Linked DNA regions of Homo sapiens: region 1 is linked to region 2. A link means that fine-mapping ties the variant in region 2 to the expression of a gene that starts in the linked region. Tissue or cell type: whole blood. Region 2 holds a variant in brackets; the other region holds the start of a gene. Each region is shown on its reference strand, or each on the opposite one.

Evidence for each region. PIP is the estimated chance that this variant, and not a neighbour inherited with it, causes the effect.
Region 1: it holds the start of NR1D1, and the variant in region 2 is the best candidate, but not a certain one, in a credible set for the expression of NR1D1 in whole blood (TOPMed, PIP 0.56).

The regions. Positions count from the first base shown.
Region 1 is chr17:40,099,111-40,102,131 of GRCh38, reverse strand. NR1D1 (nuclear receptor subfamily 1 group D member 1) reads left to right here and starts at 1,543. Exons shown (of 8, transcript NM_021724.5): 1 at 1,543-2,068. The coding sequence starts at 2,038. RefSeq lists enhancers at 1,178-1,297, 1,778-1,847, 1,313-2,296, 2,297-3,021, 2,200-3,021 and silencers at 2,629-2,718, 2,729-3,021.
Region 2 is chr2:100,811,232-100,813,731 of GRCh38, reverse strand. No RefSeq gene overlaps it. Among named protein-coding and RNA genes, the nearest start is that of NPAS2, 7.7 kb to the left of the region's middle. The variant C/T (reference allele first, on the strand shown) is at 1,420.

The sequences.
Region 1 (3,021 bases), not on the chromosome of region 2:
AGCAGCAGGTGGCTCAGGCTCCCTCTCCCTTCGCTGCCTAAGAAGCTTCCATCCCCTCCATGACCCAAGCCCTCTAACATGATAGATCTCCTCTACTTGAGATCTGTTATTACTCATGGGACAGTTGCTGCTCTGAAGCGAAATACTGGCTGTTTTTTGTTTGTTTGTTTTGGAGACAGAGTCTCACTCTATCCCCCAGGCCGGAGTGCAATGGCGATCTCGGCTCACTGCAACCTCCACCTCCCGGGTTCTAGCGATTCTCCTGCCTCAGCCTCCTGACTAGCTGGGATTACAGGCACCCACCACCACATCCGGCTAATTTTTGTATTTTTAGTAGAGACGTGGTTTCACCGTGTTGGTCAGGCTGGTCTCAAACTCCTGACCTCAGGTGATCAACCCACCTCAGCCTCACAAAGTGCTGGGATTACAGGCATGAGCCAAAGCACCCGGCAATGCTGGCTGTTTCTAACCCCTGTTCAGTATTTCACTTGTACATCTACCCACCTTCCCATTCGGGGTGGGCAGATGAAACTAGCAATGGACGTCTGACCTTGGGTCGGTCACTTCTCCTAAGCTTCCTGTTCCCCACTAGTAAAAAGAGGGAGGCTTAAGATGATCTACATGTTCCCCTCTGAGTAGTAATCTTCTGTGGAATTCATATTTTATCCTCCAGCACCGAGGGGCAGGGGTGTCACTCTGCCCCCACCCCCTGCCTCACCTCTTCCCCATTACTTTAGGACCTCAAAGCACTTTCACTATTAGTTCCCCTCTGTTGTCCTTTTTATTTCCCAGACAAAGGGAAATGACTCACCCCAAAGTCAACTGGAGTGGGTGGAATGGTGTCATACAAGCAAACAGGGAGTCCCTACAGACATCCCTACCTCTGTGGGAACTCCTTCCCCTGGAGGTGTTCTCCCTAAGGCGAGTAGAAGGGAAAGGGGGTCACATTTCCTTTCCTTCTCTGGACTTTGCCCTGAAGCAGAGGGCAGCCTAAGCTCCTGACTCCAGGGAAATCTCCCTCCCCGGCTTCTCTCTCTCCCGGTCACCAGTAACCTCAGGACGAGGTCAGTCCTGCAATCACGTGAAGCCCTCACGTTTGCAAGGTTTGCAGAAAGGGCCTCTTAGCTTTGATCTCCCAGACAGCAAACAAGCTTGCCAGTCCCTCCCCAGAAATTCACATGCCCCTGCCATACAGGCTTTCTAAACACGCCACCCTGACTCTTCAGCGCACCCCACCCCACCCCACTCTCAGCTCCTCCCAGGTCCCGGCAAGCGCTTTGCCAGGCAGAAAGGGGAAAGGCACGCAGTCCGCCCACTTTGTCGGTGGACTACAAATCCCGACAGTCTTGTCGTTGCGCAGGCGCGCAAGAGCTCAACGTGCCGGCTGTTGGAAAAGTGTGTCACTGGGGCACGAGGCGCTCCCTGGGATCACATGGTACCTGCTCCAGTGCCGCGTGCGGCCCGGGAACCCTGGGCTGCTGGCGCCTGCGCAGAGCCCTCTGTCCCAGGGAAAGGCTCGGGCAAAAGGCGGCTGAGATTGGCAGAGTGAAATATTACTGCCGAGGGAACGTAGCAGGGCACACGTCTCGCCTCTTTGCGACTCGGTGCCCCGTTTCTCCCCATCACCTACTTACTTCCTGGTTGCAACCTCTCTTCCTCTGGGACTTTTGCACCGGGAGCTCCAGATTCGCCACCCCGCAGCGCTGCGGAGCCGGCAGGCAGAGGCACCCCGTACACTGCAGAGACCCGACCCTCCTTGCTACCTTCTAGCCAGAACTACTGCAGGCTGATTCCCCCTACACACTCTCTCTGCTCTTCCCATGCAAAGCAGAACTCCGTTGCCTCAACGTCCAACCCTTCTGCAGGGCTGCAGTCCGGCCACCCCAAGACCTTGCTGCAGGGTGCTTCGGATCCTGATCGTGAGTCGCGGGGTCCACTCCCCGCCCTTAGCCAGTGCCCAGGGGGCAACAGCGGCGATCGCAACCTCTAGTTTGAGTCAAGGTCCAGTTTGAATGACCGCTCTCAGCTGGTGAAGACATGACGACCCTGGACTCCAACAACAACACAGGTACTGAGATTTCTTTACTATCATCTTTTCCCTGTCACTGTCTCCCCACCTCCATCTACGCCTTATAAAAAGAGGAACTTTGTAAGGGACTGGGGTGTCCCTCGGCCCGGAGATTTGCTAACGTGCTGCGGTGCTTTAGTGTGGGATTTCCAGAGCGGCTTGTTCGGGCTGGAAATGCTCTCAGAAACGCCCCATCACCACCCCTCAGAGTCCCAAAGCTCCCTTGAGCCTCGAATCCCTGGGCAGGAGGAAATGGAGAGGAGGTACGGGTGGTGAAGCGAAGAATTTAGGGGGACTGGGAGCTTTGGAACAGTGCCCCGAAACGGCCCCATCTGTCCACTACCTGCAGCTGTAGTATGCCTGGCCTCAGAAAACGGACCCCCTCCCCTCTTGTCTTCCCCCTCCTCTAGTTCCTGCAGGCGCGAGGGAATCTGAGAAGAGTGGCGCGATGGGGTTCAGGGAAGGAGGGGCTGGGAGAATCGTTCGGATCTCACTGGGGAATCCTCAGTGACAGGAGGGAGCGACACTTGAGGAGTCCAGAGCGTGGTGCCCGGCCCGAGGGAGGGCACCTACAGGGCTCCGGCCGCCGGGAGGGCTCACATGGCTCTAGAGCCGGGCCCACGTGCTGCGTTTGTTTTCATTCAGCAGAAGCCGTGGCTGCCACCCCATTGGTCGTTGCCTCCCGGCCTCGTTACATAATGAGCTCCGCCCCCCCGGTCGCCCCGGCAACGCGTGTTCCCTTCTCTCCTCCCCTAGGTTGTCCTGGCCCTGCTATCGTTCGGGGTCCAGCCCACGACCTGGTGGCCGGGGAAGGGCGGGTAGGAGGCGGGGCGACTGCTCTCGATTGACGGGAAGCGAGGAGGGCGGGGCCTCGAGTTCCGGGGTTCCTCGTTGGGGAGCCACGTGCGAGAGGCACACGTGGAGCAGGGACGTGAGGCCGGCTGAGGGCCCAG
Region 2 (2,500 bases):
ATATGAAATTCATTACACATAGTTCACTTGAAGTGAAAGCTAATTATAGAACAATGTTCTCCAAGGAGCTATTTATAGCCCCTCCCAAGTAGACAGCAGACAACGCATTTCCTGTATGGGTAAGCATTGTTTTATTAGTATGTTTTGTTGCAAGATTTTGGTGAGAAAAAAGCTTTTCTCAATGGCCCCAGTTGAGCACTTGTGTGGACAGTGAACACGATTCCATGGTAAAGACAACCTCATTTGATGTTGTTAATGCACATGTGCTATTACATGTTGCTTCAGATTTCTTCCTTTCCAGTCAAATAAAGGCTTTAAAGGACACTTTTATCGTGGCAACTAGGCTTGATTGTATTTTTACATTCCAGAAATTGGTAATTAAAGTCACCTTTTCTTTCTATTAGTGAGTTCCAGATGGTTCAGGGTGCCTATATCCGGGATCAGTTATTAGGGCTTTTATTTAAAGACTTTTCACTTGAGAATTTAAAATGCCAATAAGTGGCATTTTGTTTTCCTGACCCTTCATAATTCAGAGTAGTGGTCTTCAAAGTATGTTCTTTGGAAGAACAGCATCAGTGTCACCTGTGAACTTGTTAGAAATGCAAATTTAGAAGCACTACCCCAGACCTGCGGAACCTGAAACCCTGGGGTGCCAGCCCAGCAATCTCTGTCAAACAACCTTTCTGGAGATTCCAATGCACATGAAGTTCATTCGAGGTCCACTGGTTTATACAGTTGGTGATGAGGCTAGTAGGGGGTTATTCAACTCTCCTGTGGTTTGCACTAATTGTATTGATCTTCCTGTGCCAGGCCCTGGGCTAAGAGCATTAACTTATTTAATCTTCACGCCTACCCCCTGAGGGCAATTTTCTTATTATCCGATTTGACAGATGATGGAATGGAGGCCTAGAGATGTGGAGTTACTTGCATAAGGCAACATGGCTGGCAGGGAGCAGAGCCAGGTTGGACACGTGGGCCTCTCTGCCACCCACACCTGTGCTTTGAGCAGCCTACAGTTATGCTATCTTGAGGGGATACTTAGTCAAGTGATTGATAAGAATTTTAAATAAGCCTTCCTCAATTCTTCTCCCCGTTTCTCAATTCCTTGGTCCCTTCCCTTTCTCTCAGTGTCTCCTGGTCATTTCTTCTCTCTCTTGCTCTCACTGTCTCTCCCTCCCTCCCTGCTCCATGGACATGAGTACTTTAACATATGATCATCCTATCGTTGATCTCTTTCTCATTAGCTCCTCATCAGAGTACAGTTTGGTCGAGTCTAAAACATAGTGTTGAGCCACAACCTTCTGACTTCAGGGTGTGTGATGAACCAGTTGGCTTGATGTGGCTGTCAGATAAGCGGAAGCCGGCAGGGTGGGACACTGAGTTACAGGCATCCTGTAACTCCCTGTAATGTAACTCCCC[C/T]TGTAATGTACAGCAGATTTATGAACTGCAGGGGCTGTGCCTGCCACAGTGCAAAGCAAGTTCTGTAGGCATTGTTTGAACTCACTGGAGCTGGTAGTCTAAGGGAAATGACACTAACTTGGGTCACCAAGTCAAGAAGTAGATGTCTGTACTGTAACATAAAAATAAAAAATTGGCATAGGACATGGATGACAAGTGTAAAACATTAAGGTAATAGAATGAGAGCACAGAAATACACCCTTACATTTATGGTCAATTGATTTTGACAAAAGTACCAAGACAATTCAATGGGGAAGGAGTAGTCTTGTCTTCTTTTCTTTTCTTTTCTTTTTTTTTTTTTTTTTGAGACAGAGTCATGCCATATTGTCCAGGCTGGAGTGCAATGGTGTGATCTCAGCTCGCTGCAACATCCACTTCCTAGGTTCAAGCAATTCTCCTGCCTCAGCCTCCCTAATAGCTGGAATTACAGGCACACGCCACTATGCCCGGCTAATTTTTGTAGTTTTAGTAGAGATGGGGTTTCACCTTGTTGGTCAGGCTGGTTTTGAACTCCTGACCTCAGGTGATCTGCCTGCCTCGGCCTCCCAGAGTACTGGGATTACAGGCGTGAGCCTCCATGCCCAGCCAAGAGTAGTCTTTCTAACAAACAAATAGTCCTGGGACTGGATATCAAGACACAAATGAAGTTGGATCTCTACCTTGCATCATGTTCAAAAATTAACTCAAATGGATCAACTGCATAAATATAAGAGTTAAAATGATAAAATCGCCAGGAAGAAAATGTAGGTGGTAAAGCATCATGACCTTGAATTTGGCAAAGGATTCTAAAATTGGCAAAGGACTCTTGTATAACACCAAAAGCACAAGCAACCAAAGAAAAAGATACATTAGACTTCATCAGAAGTGACAACTTGTGATGATACTATCTAGAAAGTGAAAAGACAACCCATAAAGTGGGAGAAAATATTTGCAAAGCATGTATCCGATAAGGGACTTGTATCTGCAATTATAAAACTCTTATAACTCAGTAATGAAAGACAAATAATCTAATTTTAAAATAGGCAAAAGATCTGAATAGACT